Regions from separate parts of the Homo sapiens genome. Here region 2 is linked to region 1. The links come from fine-mapping of genetic effects on gene expression. Tissue or cell type: nasal epithelium. Region 1 holds a variant in brackets; the other region holds the start of a gene. All regions are shown on one strand. Distances are between the middles of the regions.

Region 1 (11,058 bases):
CCACTTGCCAGCTGAATGATACTGGTCAAGTCACTTAACTCCTTTTCCCAGGACTGGGACACAGTGAGGCACCTAGGGCACAACATTTAAAGAGGCACTCACTCTCAGGGTCCTCTCACCACCCCACAAGTCAGATTTTCATAAGCTTCATTAAATTGTGTGCCTTGGGCCTCTCTTGACTTACCCTAATCCCTGCCCTGCCTCTTATCATGGTTTTCTAATCTGTAAAGTGGGGATCAGGACCTCTCTAATAGAGAATTTTAAGGATGAAATGAATAACACAAGTAAAAGATTAGCAGTAAGGGCTCAATAAATGATAGCTATGGTTTCTCTAACTAGACAGGCAACTCACAAAGAGCTGGTCTAATTCATCATCATATTCCCAATAACTTTAAATTGCAAAAACTTGGAAGCTTTTTGCAATTGCAAGATGTCCTTCCAAGATGATATCTATTTATCTACTTGTCCAACCAAGTAGACGAATAGGCGAATAAACTGTGGTACGTCCAGGCAATGGAATACTATTCAGCACTCAAAAGAAATGGGCAACTAAGTGTAAATAGCCATGGAGGAACCTTAAATCCATGTTACTAAGTGAAAGAAGCCAATTTGAAAAAGCTACATACTATATGATTTCAACATATGACATTCCTGAAAAGGCAAAACTTTGGAGACAGTAAAAAGATCAGTGGTTGCCAGGGCGTGCAGGGATGGAGGGACGACTAGGCAGAGCACAGAGGGTTTTGGAAACTGATCTGTATGATACTATCATGATGGGCACATGTCACCATACACTTGTCCAAACCCGTAGAATGTATAACAGCAAGAGCGAACCCTAACGTAAACCAGGGAGTTTGGGTGATAATGATGTGCCAATGTAGGCTCATTGATTGTAACAAATGTACCACTCTGGTGGGGGATGTTGCTAATAGGAGAGGCTGTGCCTGTGAAGGGGCAGGAAGCAGATGGCAATTCTCTGTACCTTCTGCTCAATTTTGCTGTGACCTAAAGCTACTCTACAAAATAAAGTCTATTTAAAAAATGCATGTTACATTGAAAATTGTAGGTGATTGATTATATTTGAGTGAATTAATGAACATTTGCTAAGATTGAGTCATGTGGTAATTGAGCTAGTAGTCTATAATCAGGCAAATAACCCAGGCTTTGAGTCCCTGGGGTCAAGAGTTCTTGAGTTGATTCATCTCCTTGTTCATGCACAGTGTTTAGAAGGTTTAGGTGAGGTGCTTTGGATAGAGGGAGTAGAGCCCAAGCCTCAGAACATTTCTGAGGTTGGTTTTCAAATTAGAACCATGAGGGAAAGGCTTGAAAGTGGGATGCGTGCACACTGGATGGATTTGTTCATGTTTGGATAGCAGCAGCTCAAATGTGCAAAGTGGCTTCGGTCCATGCTTGCTGGTCCCACCAGGAATGGAGGGCTCTTTCTTGGCTATGCACTTGTCAGCTCCCTGGGAAGGAGATTCTTTCCTGGAACATGGAGACTATCTGACATCTTGTCTGGAACTCCATGAAACTCTTGGCAGCACCTGGCCCAGCAGGGTGCACCCCAAAACACCACATTTATTTGATATTGGGATTGATATTTCTCTTTTACATTGTGGTTGGGACTCATTAACTCTCAATAAGGACCAACATTAAAGGAGGAGTTTCCTCCCTCTCAGGAAAAAAAAAAAAAAGCTTCCTTGGATGGGCCACAGCTCCTGTAACTGATTTGCTCTTCTGGCACAGGACATCATGTTGTGTGGTACCCTGAGGCTGGTGAGAAAGGGAACAGACTCAAAAATTCCTGGGTGGAAAGGCTCTTCCCTGCATTTACCACAATTGCTAAAATGCTAGGTTTAATAGCTCAAGGCTGGTCTATATTTGCATGGAAACTGTGTATGTGTGGAATTTTATTTTATTGTTTTACTTCAAGATGGTCATAATAAGAGCCAGACTGTTGATGAGTCTAACGATTAGAAGCAGCCTCTAAATTCCCCATACAATCACGTTGGGTTCAATTTTGAGATTTTATTCTAATAGTTCAAAATGTGTGGTGTTTATCTAGCAACCTCACTAAAGGACTCACATTCACTGGTGCCAAACATGTGCATTAGCCTTGCAGCCGCCCAGTGCAAAGACTGCCTCTATAACCAGCCACAGAGTTTAAGTAAAGCAGTCTGGAAGAGTGTTGGGAAGGTTCATGTCAGTAACTGCTATATTTATGTCCACCATATCACTGTTAAATTGGCAAGCACTGAGGCAGCCTTCAGCATGGCTGAGTGTGTACACTCACCATTCCTGGATGAGTTGCGTGCTTGGAAACAGGAGCACAAAGAGGGTGCTTGGCTTAGGGAACTTGGCTCGACATTTCTATCTCTTTGAGTTATGTCCACCATTACACCTGCGTCCTTTGGAGCCAAACTTACACATTACCACCATTACTCTTTCATAGCACTGAAATTGTACTCATCTATGAAATCTGCCTTTCTCTTTCTTACATTGCCACAGAACAGAATCTCTAGGAGTGTGTGGGGTATTGAAGAGGGGGAAGAATACATTCTGGGTCACTGCTTGAGAAATTTTTTTATTGTATTTGTTTTCAAGTGATTCTGGTAACCAAAGTATTACAGTTACAGGGCAAGCAAACATTTAAGCCAAAAAACAATCATATGGCAAAGGCCTCTGCTTTAATCTACTACATGAGAGGTCATTGTTACTCATTTCCAAAGCTGTTATAGACTTGGAATGTGGAATTGGAGAGGCTTTTCGAATGTAGTTAGTGGTGTTCACAAAAGAACCACTGCCTTTCAACTTGGACCCTAAGAATGAACTTATCACTTCCATTTAGAACTTATATAAGCAAAAATATCTGAAGGCAAATATCAAGCCATGTTTCCACACTCCCAAAGTATCTCATTTGTCATGAGCCATGAGTGTCACTTTTTAAACTCCTTCCCTGAATGCCCAATCAACAGGAAAGAAGCTGCAGAGCAAGGGCAGAAGAGTCTAGACCAGGTGTTGGGAACTATAGCTCACAGACTGGCCACTTGTTTTTGTTTGTTTGTTTGTTTGTTTGTTTTTGAGACAGTCTTACTCTGTCGCCCAGGCTGGAGTGCAATGGCATGATCTCGGCTCACTGCAACCTCCACCTCCCGGGTTCAAGTGATTCTCCTGCCTCAGCCTCCCAGGTAGCTGGGACTCCAGGCACCCACCGTCATGCCTGGCTAATTTTTGTACTTTTAGTAGAGATGGGGTTTCACTATGTTGACCAGGCTGGTCCCAAACTCCTAACCTCAGATGATCTGTCAGCCTCAGCCTCCCAGAGTGCTGGGATTACAGGCATGAGCCACCATGCCTGGCCTGTAAATAAAGTTTTACTGGAACACAGCCATGCTCTTCTGTTTACATCTTGTCTATGGCTGCTTTAGTGCTACAATGGCAGAGTTGGGTAGTTGGGACAGACACCATGTCTGTCTGTTGGTACAGACAACACAAACTCCAAAATATGTACTCTGTGGGTCTTTACTGAAAACTTTGCCGACCCTTGGTCTAGACAGATAGTCAGATGAGCTAACAGTTGGCTAAAGGTCCTCAACTCACAATGCCAAGAGAAGGACTGAGTTGGCTTTAGTTGTTGTCATGCACTGTGTAATTTAAAAAATCTTACAGGCCAGTACAACTAAAACTCCTATTTACCTTACTTTGGAGCAACAATATGGAAAGTAAAACTAGGTCTGAATATATTTTATATGTTACCTGGACTTCTAAAACATTGTTGATTGCTTAAATGTGCATAAGTCAATGTCATTTCTCAAAACGTTTAATAGATGCAACTGTTGGCGGCTGCTAAAGTACTGGTGTTATGCTTGTGCCTGTGTGAAATTCTACAGTGCTGAAAATCTCATGCACTCTAGCTATGAATGCAGGTCTACTTGAAGCAAAACTCTTCAATCTAATTGTTTTCTCAATCTTTGTAAACCAGTTTTAAGAGTCACCAGAAATCTGTAGTTTAAGGCACCAGATACATTTCTTGGCTGAGCCTTGTAGGACCAATATGCTGGACCAATTCGGTAAAATACACCATAAATTATGACTGCTTTATCTGAATGCATGGGACACTTGCTACGATGGCGGGAATTATTACCAGGAGTTTAGGAGCCAGACATGGGTTCTGTATTTTTCATACATTGGTGATCAATTCAAATCTCTTTCCTTTGCAGCCAGGTTTGGTCAGTCTGGCCAGGAGTGCAGATTATGACAAAGAACAAAGCTAAAAGACCTGAGCCATTAAGGTTACAGTCTCAATACCACCGAGTTAAACAACCTATTTAAATGCAAGACTATTGATTGGAATGATATTGGACAGACATGTCAGAAGTGATCTGAAGGCTTTGAAATGTCATTAAGGGTGGGACTTATTGTTGGATGTTGGCTGCAACGAAGGCTACTTCTTTTCTTCTCCTTTAAATATTAGGTAGATCATAAATAACAGATATTATTATGGATTCTACCTGCAAATGTGTCTTAGCAGATATGTGATGAATTGGAGTGGAAAAGCCATTCAGGAAACAGGAGGACTTGGGCTTCCTCTTGAAGCTCAGGTTTGACCACTGGGTTGTTTTCTATGTCTACAGGTTTAAATGGCTGAAATTCAGTTCTCTAATCACAACTCTCCTTTTATCTAGAAGAATTTACAAAGCTTGAGGTAATGACTTTGGGAAGAAATGATGTGTAGTGAAACTATCACTAAGAATTTAAATGTGATTTTTTAGACTTATATGGAGAATAAGACATATAAATCCACTTGATAAATTATAAGATCTATAAAAAAGACATAGGATATTAAATTTTTCTTCAGTTTCAAGTATGATAGAATCATACAGCTGAAGAAAACATCACCATTCTAGATTTTTATTAAAAAATAAACAAACATTAGTCCTACTTTTTGTCTCTAACGCTTCATGAATTTATGTGTCAGCCTTGTGCAGGGGCTGTGCTAATCTCTGCATTGTTCCTATTTTAGTACATGGGCTACTGAAACAAGCAGAGTCCTACTTCTTAAACTTCCTCTTCCTTACACGTAAAAAGCCCACCAGTCAAGGTCTTTTAATTTTGGTGTACACTATCACTGAATGCCATTTATAAATTCTAATTTTAAAGAGACCCTTAATTTTCAAAGGAGGACTTTGATAGCATTAGTTTTCAGAAAAGATGACTTGCAATTCTAACTTAGTACTTGAAAGGTGAGATTTTTATAGGGAGGCTTATAAAAGGTGTCTTAGAAAAAAAATGAGCGCTCTCAAACCTTTCTTTTGGGAGTGAGGTTGTGGGGCTGAAGTGACTTTTTAAAGTGAAGCAACTGACACTACCCGTGGGAGAAGCCACCTATGCGACCTGTGGCCAAACCGCAAATGTATGTTTCTGTGCAACATTCCTGCTAGAGCAGCCGGGCTCTGAGTAAGGTGTAGCTGGCTAGATAATCACTAGGGAGAGGTCCAGGGTGTGGGGAACACTCCAAATCACATTCCATGGAAATATTAGACTGTCAGAGCTTAGGAAGTCCCCGATTGTCCATAGACGCTGAGGTGGGGGAAAGGACTGAAATGAATGCTAGCACATGTTAGCTTATAAAAGAGCTGCTGACACAAATTGAACATGTGCAATTTTTTAAAAAGGTGGTATCGAATAACAGGCCAACAGCCATCCTTCTCAGCATTTAGACCTCTTTCTTCTCTCCACTTTGGCTCTTTGTTGAGTCACTTCCATCAGGCAAAGTTCCATAGGATAAGCTATGTGAATCTGGTTGTATTTTGTCCAACATTTGTTTCCCTGTGGAGATAATAATCATAGAGAATCTTTTGAGGTCTTACAGAAAAATAAGTCTTAATAATTTCTCCTCAATCTAGGCCACATTTTATCACCTCTCTTTTATACTATGTGGGCACTCTCTAAAGAGAAGAGATGAATATCAAGGAAGAAAAGGCCCTTGAAACGCCATGTCTGTAGCTATGTGATAGCGAATTGTCTGTGTCAGAGCCACTATCCCCACCCCACAGGATCTACATGCTGGCCATGGAAATCAGGTGGGTTTAGTCTGGAGATTCACATGAAGCATTCACTCA[C/T]CTCCAAGCCTTTCTCTCTGGGGTTGTGTCTTCTTTTCCACGTCGAATGCATATAACAACATAGAAAAATAGCCTTTGATAGTGACTTCTAAAGCTACTACGGAGCCTATGCACTGAGCTTTGTGAAATAAAAAATAGAGTTAAAAATAATCAGGCTCGGTGCAGTGGCTCACACCTATCATCCCAGCACATTGGGAGGCCGAGGCAGGCGAATCATTTGAGGTCAGGAATTCGAGACCAGCCTGGCCAACATGGTGAAAACCCACCTCTGCTAAAAATACAAAAATTAGCCGGGCATGGTGGTGCCTACTCGGGAGGCTGAGACACGAGAATCACTTGAACCCGGGAGGGGGAGGCTGCAGTAAGCTGAGATTGTGCCACTGCACTCCAGCCTGGGCAACAGAGCAAGACTCCATCTCAAAAAAAAAAAAAAAAGTCAAACTTTATTTCCTATCAAAGAACCTCTAACCATATAAGGCTTCTATCACAAGCACCTTTGCCACTGATGCCAATTCTTTCATTGACTGCTCCCAGCAGATAAGATGGCTCGAATGGCAAAGAGAACACAGAATTCATTGCATGGGGCCATATTTCTCAGTCTTAGGGATGAGGCTTCCCTAGTTTTTGCTTCACAGGCATGGTGCTAACAGAATGGTGGAGAAAGCTGTGAGAATGTCTCCACTCCTGCCTGGAAACCTATAGGTCCCCCTACATCCCCAGTAAGGCTGGAGAGTGCTGAGGGCGGGTGGACAGGGGAAGAGGTGACACAGCAGACAGTTTCCTTTGTCCTGGACTTGGCTTTTGTTGTCTACATGACTAGGCGAGTTATTTCTCAGTGAGAGTGAGAACGGGAAAGAGTGTTTGCTCTCTGGGTAGGCGGGGTGAGGAAGGGGGAAGAAACTACTCATGTTTTGGTGACTGTCCTGAGCCACAGTGCACAGGCCACCTCAGGCTTCCCCCAAGACATGCTCCTTAGCTGCCTACCCTTTGTCCTTGGATGTTCCTTCAAGGCTCTCAAAGTGGCAGGGGTCTGCTGCTGGTAGTCATTGCTACTCTTTTCTCTACCCTTTTCCAATTTAAGGAAACCCAAAAAGGAAATCCTCCAAATCACCCAAATCGAGGAAACATGGTCAGTTCTTTTATATCCCCAGTTCTGTGCAAAACTGACATTCAATAAATTATTAGAAACATTTACACTGAAAATAGCACCTTTGGTTTCATTATTAAATGTACATTTTTTAGGATAAGAATTATGTTTTATATTAACTTACCACCCAAAATAATACCAATAACTATTCATTTATAAGGATCAAATTTTCCACTATAAAGAATATATGATTTTACCAGGAATATTTCCAAAATCAATATAAGACTGTTGCAGATGTTCCTTTTCTCGATTTCTTGTGACCAAAAATACACCAAGGAATGACAGAAAACACCTGTAAGGATAATATTAATAAAGAATACAAGAACACTGAAACAGACTCATGGTATTAAATAACTGAGCTCCATATTCTACATGATGACATAAATCCCATTGGTTTTGTTCTTCCAGTTTCTCATGGTAAGCTTCCTAGTACTTGTCTTAATTAGCACAGCCAATAGTTCTACCCAGAACCAAGACTTGGGCAGATTCCAGTAGATCTCTGGCCCAGGTTTTTACCATCTGGGGGCTAACTCAGGCTCAAAACCCTTGGGGACACCCTGTCTCATTTTCTGCCCATGCACGCCCAGATCCATTTCTGGCATGTGACACAAGAGAAAAAATAATTTATTCTTTAATTTTCTAAGAAATCTAGTTTTCCTTGGCCATAAGAGTAGTCATAATTTCCAGACCTCAGAAGTTTGGCCTTGCCCAATTATCTTATGAAATTGAATTTTCAAGATAGATGGCTTCCTACACCGAAAATAGCCTAGGCTCAAGTTTGCATAACAATGATCATGCTGACTACTAGATCAAGGAGCAGCTAAACATTTAATGAAGTGCCTCATGGAGTCATGGAAGCTCCTATACACTGGTGATATATTGTCAAAGTTCTGCTCTCTGTTTGCAAGCAATGCTAGCAATGATGCCCACCAAATCTCTAGGGAGAGCTCAAGCTGCACACTCTTAACACAAGAAAGGGATGCTACCAACCTGATATTATCATGACTAAAGCAAGGGATCTGCCCATCTTGGCCTTTTATTTTGGGCGACCCTAGAGGATCATGATTCTCTAATTTAGATCTAATCTAGGGGTTCCCAAGAGCGAAGTAGGTCTGATACAGTACAGAAAGGTCGTGCAGTAACTACAAGGGCCAGTGGATGTATCTTGTCTTTGGCCTGGAATTGGAAATCCCCAATGTTTCAGAACAGCAGAGATATACCTAAGTCACAAAGCCAAAGACGCTGAGCCCTGTTTAGGGCCTTAAGTTAAAAAATATGTTTCTTTTAGGAGCTCAGGAAACTGATGTTTCTTATATTATTTTCCAATTTTCTATACCTCCGGTACAATGCCGAAAATCCTACGTAAAAGTAATAGAATTTCACATGCTTTACCTCTGAGACATTTACTCACCCAAAAAGATATATAAATACAGTGAGAAAAGGAGCACCAAGGAATTCCTGATAAAATATGATACCTGTAACACAGGAAAAGAAGACAAAATTGATTTTGAAGTAAGGTTATTTATAATAGCTAAATATTGTTTGTAAAATTATGTTAATATGTTATTTTTTCAAAGTAAATTTAGTCATCCTTAAAATGCACATTCAGCAGTTTAGTTTAAGAAAATTTGCATGCCACACATTCTGAATTATTCCAAAAAGAACATAGATTTGTAAATCTGATATAATTATCATTATTATAAAAGAAACATAATTGACATATATTTGCAAGCAGAAATTTCTCATCCAGCCCAGGATTGCCCAACTGGAACATACAAGAAAACAACACTCTAGCAACTATTCCCCACCTGCAGTTTTAGGTCAGGGGTCAGCCAGCCTGGCCTGAGAGTCTGGGTAGACTCTGGGGCCTCTGACATGGCAGGTCCACCTCAGGCCAGCTGCTGCCACCCATGCTGTCACTCGTGGAGATGCCCAGTGATCTGTTGGTCTGGCCACATGGCGACTCAAGTGCCAAAGCACACTCTAGCAGCTGAAGTGCTACCTTAGCTCTACTTCCCACTGCCAAGCCCCCTCTCATCTTCTTCTGGTCTTCCAAAGGTAAACAAGGATGCATCATCTACTTTGATGAACTTTGCTTCTCTCCGTCTTGGTCTCAATGATTTCTTCTGTAAAGTTCCAAAGCCTTCATAGAGTTTTTGTTAAGATATCTTTAAGTTATATGTTGCCTGGAATTAATTTTTTATGTGTGTGGTGTTATCCTTGTTAGCCAGCCAACCAATATTTATTGAACGTCTGCTGTGCGTCAGCCACTGCTCTAGGTCTTGGAGAAATGACAAGACAGAGACCTATCCTCAAGGAGCTTTCTCATTCTTCACCTTATCTCCTTACCTAGGGAATGAACTTCTTACAGGAAGAAGCCATGTCCAGTTCTAATGAATATTTGTTGAATGAATGAAACTTTCTGAAGCACACTCCAGGTTATTACATACTTCCTTATAATCATTTTAATGTTTTCATGTTATTTTAAACGATATACCATAATATTCATTTCTTTAAGGGCATTTCAAGTTGGTTCTACATCTTTTTTCTCTTTTTTTTTTTTCAATTTTTTTCTTCAGTAAAGCAGCAATGTACTTCTTCGTACAGGTGTATCTTGGAGATATGTGGGTTTGGTTCCAGACCACATCACAATAAAGCTAATCTCTCAATAAAGCAAGTCACACTAAATTTTTGGTTTCCCAGTGTACATAAAAGTTATGTTTACACTGTACTGTAGTTTATCAAATGTGCAATAGCATTATGTCTAAAAAAAGTACATACCTTAATTAAAATACTTTATTGCTAAAAATGCTAATGATCATCTGAGCTTGCAGTGAGTCCTATCTTTTTGCTAGTTGTAGGGACTTTCCTCAGTGTTGATGGTTGTTGATTGATCAGGGTGGTGGTTGCTGAAGGTTGGGGTGGCTGTGGCAACTTCTTAAGATAAGACAATAATGAAGTTTGCCACATCGATTAACTCTTTCATGAAAGATTTCTTTGTAGCATGCCATACTGTTTGACAGCATTTGACTTGCAGTAGAAATTCTTTCAAAATCTCTACTTAATCTTCTCGAACACAGCTGCTGCTTTATCAACTAAGTTACTGAAATATTCTAAATCCTTTGTTTTCATTTCAACAATGTTCCTAGCATCTTCACCAAGAGTAGTTTCCACTTTAAGAAACCACTTTGTTTGCTCTTTTATAAAAAGCAACTCCTCATCCATTAAAGTTTGATTATGAAGTTGTAGCAGTTCAGTCACATCTTCAGGCTCCACTTCTAATTCTAGTTCTTTTCCTATTTCCATCACATCTGCAGTTACTGCCTTCTCTGAAGTCTTGAACCTTTCAAAATCATCCAGGAGGGTTAGAATAGACTTCTTCCAAACTCCTGTTAATGTGCATATTTTAGCCTCCTCCCATGAATCACAAAAGTTCTTAATGACATCAAGAAAATCAGAAAGTTTTCAATTTACTTTGCTAAGATCAATCGGCAGAATCATTATCTATGACAGCTACAGCCTTACAAAATGTATTTCTTAAATAATAAGACTTGAAAGTCAAAATTACTCATTGATCCATGGGCTGCAGAATGAATGTTGTGTTAGCAGGCATGAAAACAACATTCATCTCTTTGTACATCTCCACAAGAGCTCTTGGGTGATCAGGTTCATTGACAATAAGCAGTAATATTTTGAAAGGACTCTTTTTCCTGGTCAGTAGGTCTCAACAGTGGGTTTAAAATATTCAGTAACCCATGCCATAAACAGATGTGTTGTTATCCAGGCTTA
Region 2 (9,031 bases), 100 kb after region 1:
TTAATCTTCTCATTTTTAAGTGTTGGCAATGTATTGAAGACTTTGAAGCCTCTCTGCTGGTCAAACAAGATGTATCTGTAGGCTGGATTTAGTCCACAGCTGGCCAGTTTGAAAACTGAATCCTGCTAGCCTTAATTTAAATTTTTTTAAATTTAATTTGCTTTGATTCCTGCACTCCTGCTCAAAAAAATCTTCAATGGCTCCCCACTGTCTGCAAGGTAAAGTCCAAACTTTGTCACCAGTCCTTCAAAGCAACCCATGACTATATCCAAGACCCCAAACCATATTTCTACCTTATAGTCAGTCTCCATCTTCCACCGCAACCAGAATGATAGTTGAATTGTACTCTAGGAAGGAAAATATTCAGAAAGGCACCAGTCCTGGCCATGAGGGCTGCTTCTGGGTCCCTAAGCTTTTTCCTTTCCTGCAGTGCCCTACACTGTGCATGCCTATCAATGAAACCCTGTCCATCATTAACCATCCAGCTCAAATACCACCTCTCCACAAAACATCCCTGATGGCCCAGCCAAATGCCCCTTTGCTCTGAATTTCCATGGGACTTTATATCACTCACATGACACTTACAACATACTGCCTTGTTTTGGCATTACCTACATAGCTCATTTTCCCAAACACCTAATAATATTCACAGAAGGAAGAGTTTGGGTTTTGCACTATATTGAATATCCCTGTAGTGCTTTGTACATAGCATGGAGCTCAATAAACATCTTGGGAACATTATCCTTCTCTACTGAAAACTTGTGGATCAAACATAAAGTGCCTTTTGTTTACCTGTCACAACTCCATCACTTCTATACTTCTATAGGCCAGGCTTTTCACCAAGCACACAGCGTCTGAGTAGTGCAAAGGGCAAAGACTTCACTTCCCTGCTCCTAAGACATCTTCCCCCACTGAACTACTACTTTTGAGTTGCTTTGAGGTTTCTTCCTCCAGAAGCACTCACACCTTTGTCTTAGACAACATTGATTCTAAGTGGCCACTGTTAAACATGTATTACATGAAAGCATTCCAGGGAAGTTTGTCTTTTTCTATGTAGTAAGGTTAATTGATCAGATTTGATGATAATCACTTTGGAAGGGATAAAGGGACAGAGAACTAGGCTATCAGCCAACACACACTGTGCAAATATTTTAGTTGTGATAAAACCAATGGAGGCAAGCAAATAAGCATCATTAAGCTGTGGCTAGTTAGCAACCAACATTCATTTTGATTGTGGGAGTGACACATTTATATCTCACACTTTGTTTTTCTGTATCCACACCCATTTTCAGCCATTTCTATTCAGTGTCAAAAAAGACAAGAAAAATTAGACTCAATTTTATTTTTACTGGCCTGGACAACACCAGAGGCACTCAATAAAATGCTTCTCGAGTAAACTTTTTAAAAATTAATTTTTACTTTTGCTTAACACAAATGCAATTACTGAAAAGATAAAATACCACCATCTTATAAGAGGGCCTAAATTTGCACAATAATGGCAAAACTTGATACAGTTTTATCTCAAACCAGCAAAGTTTAGATGTCAGCTCAGTAATTTCAATTAGCACATTCTGGATACATCCTTTCTAACCTGTACAAATACACACTGTCAAAGGCAAATTAAGCCTTGCAAACAGTATTTATTTGCCTCACATTTATGTCACATGATAATCTGTGTTTGGATATCAGACAGCCAAGACAATCAAGAATTCCAGGAAATGTCAAAGAAAACTAATGACTACAGAGGTTTCCACTGTGAAAACAATGTCCTGTTTTTGGATGATCACATCTGCTAACCCTCTATTTTTTTTTTTTTTTTAATCAAGAGGGGATAGATAACTCATTCTTAAACTTATATTGGGAATACTTCTAATAAAAGAATAATATAATAGATAGATTCAAGTTCCCATAAAAATGATGCTTTTCTTTGTAATTCCTGTGGGTAGAAGAAAGGAGAAATGGGGTTGGATTACAAACATTGATCAAGAGGCTCTGAGTACCCTCATTTTTCCTATTTTTATATCTTTTATGATGAAATGACTTAAAGCAATACTCTCCCCTCTTGAAAACTAATAAAGTGAACATGCTTATTTATCTTACTTATTCTTTATACAAATATATTCTCTTCTGCATTCAGAAATTAATATTTAGAACACTTCAGGCATAAAAGGAATCCAGATCTTTGATAATTGGTTAAACTCTCCGATTTAGGACAACAGCAACAAATATTTTCTGATTATATTGTTGCAAAAATAAAAGTATCCATGGTTTTGTTAAAGAACAAGAACAAAGTAACACATTTAATGAAAACAGGAGGAAGCCTGGAATCCACCGTGATAAAACTTAGTTGCAATATGAACGCTGCTAGAGGAAGGGCTGGCCAGAACACTTCCTCATCTTAAACCAAGCCAAAAATAAATGGGCGGCTCCAAGTCCCTTTGATTTTGTTAAATGTATATTTCCAGTGTAAACTGGCGTTGTTTAAGTTAACAAAGTTTTCCCAAAGGGCCGGTGGGAAAGAATGAGAGTCCTGCAAATGCAACCTGAGAAAATGTGTTCCTCGCACGGAAATGGAAGAGCTGTGTTGAGATACCAGGGACACACGCAGGGCATCTGCGCGAGGTGACATTAGGCTGCCCTTAATGAGTTTTCTGCTTCTGATAACAGGGTGTCACTTTTTTCTTTTCTTTTAACTGTAAAAGGATCCTGGGGTGAAAATGAGTGAATTGCCCCCACACTCCTAGATTCCTTCCGGGAGAAGAGGGCGGACGCAGGCTGGGGAGGCGGGATCGGGACCCGGAGGTCCCAGGAACGGGTGGCTGAGGTCAAGGCCGAAGACCTGGGCGCCCACTCCCAGTGCCGGGTGCCCGGGAGAGGAAGACTGGGCGGACCCCCGCGCTTCCGGATGAGGCGGACTTAGGTCAATGCGGGAAACATTGCATGTCACCTCTTCCCACTCGGAGAGGCCGGGTGTCTTCCTGAGAGCTGGCAGGAAAGCGGCCGAGGCGCAGAGGCGCCCGGAGCCAGCCGCCCTGGCCGCGTCCCCACCGGGCTGCGGTGGCTGCGGGGCGGCCCTTACCTGGTTCCTGCGGTACCAGTCGCCCGAGAGGGAGCCGTTGCCGGCGCCTGGTGCCCCGTACGTGAAATTCAGTGACAGCTCGTCCAGGGCGGCCGAGGCGGAGTCCCCGGGGCCCGCGGGCGCCACCGCTGCCATGAGGTCTCGCTCCCGGCGCTCGGGCTCCGGCTCGGGCTGCGGCCGCCTCCCCGCCCTGTTGCACCGCGAGGAGGCCGCGCCGCAGCCACTTCCTGCTCGGTGCCCGGGCGAGGCGGGCGCGCCGAGGCCACCTGGCTCCCGCCCCCGCGCGGCCGTAGGTGCTCCCAGCCTGGCCGGGCGCTGCCTCCTCTCCTCCTCCGGTGCGAGGTGTCCTCGGGGAGCCCGGCGGTCTGCGGCCTCCCGGGGCCGTCCAGCTCGCACCGCGCCCTCCTTCCGCTGGGCCAGTGTCTGCATCCTCGGGGCCGCACTGCCCAAGGGGGCAATCCCCGCGGCCGTCCGCAACGGGTCCCCGCGCCTGTCGGGGCCAGAATCAGATCATCTCCGTTGTAAACATTTGTCCAAGTCAATGGAAGAGGAGGAGACACTGACTAACCCAAAGCAGCTATCATCTCCCATCTCTACCTGGCAATTCCAGTCCTCTATCACATATGTAGTGTTTCTCACCGATATTTTAAAAATTGATTGCATATGAAAAAGTCATGAGTTCCCAGAAATATTGTAAGCAATATGAGAAAAAAAGATCCGAGCGATTGAATCTCAGTGCCAGTGCTTGATAGATCCTTAGTAAATATTCCTTGAATGAGGAATGTGGTAGCCATAGGACCCCAGTGTGCGATGACTGGATTGGGTTTGCTTCAGATGGGATCAGGTGGAGTTGCTGAAAAGTTGCCAGCTACTGTATATATGAATTTAGGATGAAAGATAAATGTTGTTATTAATCTTAAGAACTCTAACGAGATGTTCTGGTTTTACCTGTATTCAAATTCTAATGTGTGACCACAAATGATCTGTAGGGTATTTCTCACTTTAAAAAAACCATGATTCTATACTGTTGCCTGAAGGCTGATAGTTGCCTTCTTTTGTTTACACAATGCTGAGGTTTTTCTTAGATAATGTGCTTTGACTTCCATGAGTTCATGAAAGAGAGACCTTCAAGAAAAGAGAATTGCTGCCTAGAAGGGAGCAGGGACAGTTTTCAGTGTTTCTTAGGGGAAATGTGCAAATGAGAGAAAAGAGTGAGAAAAAGTCATTTCACATACAGAAAAAACAAGACATGTCGTCTCAGAAATTGTGTAGTTTCTTGCTTAAGCACTCGAGATGTTCAGTGAACAGCTAACAATTGTAGGTAACTATTCCCAATTTTAAGAGGCTGATTTACTTCAAATAAATATCTGAAGGAAAAAGGTCTCTATTTGTTATATTACATTTTATTTTATTTTTTGAGACAGGGTCTTGCTCTGTTGCCCAGGCTGGAGTGCAGTGGTGTGATCTTGACTCACTTTAGCCTCATATTCCTGGGCCCAAGTGATCCTCCCACCTGGGACTACATACAGGTGCATGCCACCATGCCCAGCTAATTTTTTTTTTTTTTAGATAGAGTCTCTCTCTCTTGCCCAGGCTGCAGTGCAGTGGCACAATCTCAGCTCACTGCAACCTCTGCCTCCTGGGTTCAAACAATGCTCCTGCCTCAGCCTCCTGAGTAGCTGGGACTACACGTGCACACCACCAAGCCCGGCTAATTTTTGTATTTTTAGTAGAGACAGGGTTTCACGGTGTTGGTCAGGCTGGCCTCAAGCTCCTAACCTCCAGTGATCCCCCTGTCTTGGCCTCCCAAAGTGCTGGGATTACAGGTGTGAGCCACCACACCTGGCCCTGGCTAATATTTTTCTATTTTTTTGTAGGGACAGGGTCTCGCAATTTTTCCTAGGCTGGTCTAGAACTCCTGGCCTCAAACAGTTGTCCCACCTCGGCCTCCCAAAGTGGTGGGATTACAGGTGTGAGCTGCCATGCCTTGTCTGATAAGTTTTCTATAACATCACATTCATTGATATTGGTGACTTCATTAATGCTTCTTTCTCTTCACATGCTTTAGGGTGCAAGTAACAGAGTATCCAAATAAAAGTGGCTTAAACAATAATTATCTGCTATCTCCAGAGGAATGTGTCTCTATGTGGTTCTATTATGTCGTCACTTCCACCTTTCTGCTCTGCTATCCCTGAGGTACTGGTCTTGTCCATTGAGGGAGGAAAGCCTTTTCCAGAATCCTCCTGGCATCCTTTCACCTCAGATCCCATTGGCTGGGACTGGGTCACATGCCCATGTTCTACCAGCAAGGGAGGCTGGGAAAGTGATTCTTGGGTATTTCCAACCTAGTGAGAGGTAAGCTCTACCAACCAGGATGAGTGGGAATGCCATGGGGTTATGGGGGAGGGGAACCAGTCAACCCTGGTACAACCACTCTAGTATTTTTCTATCAGCCAGATTGTAAGTAGTTGTACAGTTGCTAACAAGCAAAATACTAAATGGATTGTGTTACTTTCTGGTTTAAAATGCCTTGAAGCCTCCCTATTGCCATAATGAAGTCCACACTTTTTTTTTTTTTGAGACAGAGTCTTGCTCTGTCACCCAGGCTGGAGTGCAGTGGCACAATCTCGGCTCACTGCAAGCTCCGCCTCCCGAGTTCACGCCATTCTCCTGCCTCAGCCTCCTGAGTAGCTGGGACTACAGATGCCCGCCACCACGCCCAGCTAATTTTTTGTATTTTTAGTAGAGTCTGGGTTTCATCGTGTTAGCCAGGATGGTCTCGATCTCCTGACCTCATGATCCACCCACCTCAGCCTCCCAAAGTGCTGGGATTACAGGCGTGAGTCACCACGCCCAGACAATTTTTTTTTTTTTTTAATTTTTTGTAGAGATGGGGTCTCATTATGTTTCCCAGGCTGGTCTAGAACTCCTGGCCTCAAACAATTCAGTGAGACTTCTGAATAAAACTAAGTTTAATTCTTTAAAAGCTTGATTTTTTTCCCTTTAGTTGATACTCTGCTATACTCAACTTGTTCCCATTTTATTTCTTAATTTAAAAAAACATTTTCAATTTCTTTACATTTGTTTAAAACCTCTAATTTTGGAGGAAGATGGTACATGATGCAGAGAAGATTTGATGTACAGCCTACCACGTGGTGTTCTCTAGATTCCAAGATGTCACTGCTGTTGCTGCTGTCCTAGTGTGTGTGGGTGGTTGAAACGAAGAATTCGTGACCAGCGTTCCTTCCCACACAGTTCACAAGGAGGCGGCAGGAATGCCATGTGAACTATTTTGGTCCCAGCAGTGTAGGCAGAGCTGTGGAGATTGTTCCGTACTTTGTGACGGCCTCTACCTCTCGTGGGATTTCTTCAGGGGATATCCTGTTCACTTTACGGGATGCCAAAAGCTAAAAAAAGGGCTGAAACGTGGAAGTCTGTCTTCCTCAGTTAATTTGAAGAACTCTACTCTGGTGCCAAATCATTTACTTAGAGAGCAGGGTTAGATTTTGCCTACCTTGCCTGGGATCAGTCACTGGCAGCATTAACAAAACAGCTTTTTTTTTTCTCTCAACTTTTTTTTTAGATACAGGGGTACATGTGCAGGTTTGTTACATGGGTTTCTTGCAACCAAGTAGTGAGCATAGTACCAGTAGGTAGTTTTTCCACCTGTGCCCTCCTCCTTCCCTCCCCTCTCTAGTAGTCCGCATTGTTGATTGTTCCCATGAATAAAATGTTTTTTTTAAAATTCATCTCTAGCACAATTCAGTCAATACTAGTTGTGTTACAATAAGCATTACTCAAGTTAGGAGCTTTTAAGGGGCCAAAGTAGAGAAGGGTATGGATTAATTCAGGTATCTCACATCATAAGCCAAGTCCAGATTAGAGACTTTGATGAGAGAGGCGAAACTTTGAATCTTATAGAATAACATATGACATCATCTCTATAAACAACAGTTTGGCAATTGTTAAAGTGCAAACACAAGGCAGACTGTCTGGGTTCAAATCCTGACTCCACTGCTTATTTGCTGTATGACCTCATCTAGTTGCTCAATTTCTCTGAGCCTTGTCTTTATCACCTGTAAAAGGGAGATGATAAGGAGTACCCGAAACATAGAAAGTACTCAATAGGTGCCGGCTATAACCTTACAATAGGGAAGCATCCCTTAAACAAATTAAAAAATACAATCCACATAGACAAAGATTCATAAGTGCAATTACAATAAAACTAAGAACTTTTTTTTTTTTCGAGACAGGGTCTTGCTCTGTTGCCCAGGCTGGAGTGCAGTGGTACAATTTTGGCAGGACGAAGTCTTGATCTCCCAGGCTCAATCCATCCTCCCACCTCAGCCTCATGAGTAGCTGGGACTACAGGCTCACACCATGACGCCCAGCTAATTTTTGGGTTTTTTTGTAGAAATGGGGTTTCACCATGTTGCCCAGGCTGGTCTCAAACTCCTGGGCTCAAGCAATCTGCCTACTTGGCCTCCCAAAGTGCGGGTTTACAGGCATGAGCCACCATGCCCAGCCAAACTAAGAACTTTTATACATCAATAGGCACCATAAAGTGTAAAAAGATAAGTCAGAAACTGAGAATCTTAATACAAAAATACTAGCCAGGCATGGTGGCGCATGCCTGTAGTCTCAGCTACTTGGGGAGGCTGAGGCAGGAGGATCACCTGAGCCCGGGAGGTCAAGGCTGCCCTGAGCTGTGATCATGCTACTACACTCCAGCCTGGGCAATAGAGTGAGACCCTGCCACAAAAAACAAAACAAAACAAAACAAAACAAAAGTCAAACTCAGAACTTTTATTTCTCATACATGTGACTGACCAAGGATTCACATCCAGAATATATAAATAACTCCTTCAGGTCAATAAGAAAAAGTCAGACAACTGGTAGAAAAATGGGCAAAAATATAAACAGGTGGTCTTCATAAGAAAAACTATAAATGGCTAATAAACATATAAAATACTTCCATTTCACCAGTAATCAGAAAAATACAAAATAATATCTCCAATGAGAACCATTTTACACCTGCTGGTTGGCAAAAAAAAAAATTTTTAATTTGCATACCAAGTGTTGATAAGGATGTGGAGCAAAAGAAACTCTTATTTAGTGCTGATGCTATTGACACTGGAAAGAGTTTGACAGTATTTGGTAAAGATGAAGATGTACATGTGAATTTCACTCTTATGTACATACCCCAGAGAAACTTCCGTACCTGGACAGCAGAAGAGATGTATAAGAATAACAGCACTCTTTGTAACAGCAAAACAAACAAACAAACAAACAAACAAACAAACAAAAAACTGGAAGCAGCTCAAATGTCCATTAGCAGGAATAGTGGGCAAATGAATTTTGATACATTTATATAATGGAACACAGCAATGAAATTACCTGAATGACAACCACCTAACAGCCACAGCAACATGGATGAATCCCACAAACATAATAATAGCAAATCCATAGAAGATTATATTCAGTATTATTCAAAAGCATGCAAAATTAGACAATATATTGTTTAGAAGTACATCTATCTATATGTGGGAAGACCTAATGAAAAGCAAAGGATAGACCAGGTGCTGTGGCTCATGCCTGTAATCCCAGCATTTTAGGAAGCGGAGGCGAGCTGATCATTTGAGCTCAGGAGTTCAAGACGAGCCTGGGCAACATGGTGAGATCTGTATAGGTACAGTGAGCCGTGATGGCTCCACTGCATTCTGTCCTGGGGTACAGAGTGACACCCTGTCTGAAAAAGAAAGAAAGAAAAAGAGAGAGAGGAAGGAAGGAAGGAAGGGGCAAAAAATGATAAACACAAAAATTCTGATAGTGGTTGAAAGGTTTGGCAACGTTCTATTTTCTAAATTGGGTTATGTGTTATATGGGCATTTGTACTATTATTATTCTTAAAGGTATACACTTATGTCAAGTGTGCTTTTTTATAACCATAAT

What was found. PIP is the estimated chance that this variant, and not a neighbour inherited with it, causes the effect.
Region 2: it holds the start of NIPAL2, and the variant in region 1 is fine-mapped to the expression of NIPAL2 in nasal epithelium (TOPMed, PIP 0.98).

What each region holds. Positions count from the first base shown.
Region 1 is chr8:98,187,262-98,198,319 of GRCh38, forward strand. It overlaps NIPAL2 (NIPA like domain containing 2), which reads right to left. Exons shown (of 11, transcript NM_001321635.2): 9 at 8,681-8,744; 10 at 7,467-7,561; 11 at 2,565-5,829. The coding sequence ends at 5,717. The region is part of intron 2 of NIPAL2-AS1 (NIPAL2 antisense RNA 1); the gene reads left to right. It also overlaps the pseudogene RNU6-914P. Among named protein-coding and RNA genes, the nearest start is that of NIPAL2-AS1, 16 kb to the left of the region's middle. The variant C/T (reference allele first, on the strand shown) is at 6,123.
Region 2 is chr8:98,290,924-98,299,954 of GRCh38, forward strand. NIPAL2 (NIPA like domain containing 2) reads right to left here and starts at 3,312. Exons shown (of 11, transcript NM_001321635.2): 1 at 3,080-3,312. The coding sequence starts at 3,214. The region is part of intron 5 of LOC105375659 (a long non-coding RNA gene); the gene reads left to right. RefSeq lists a silencer at 2,832-3,551.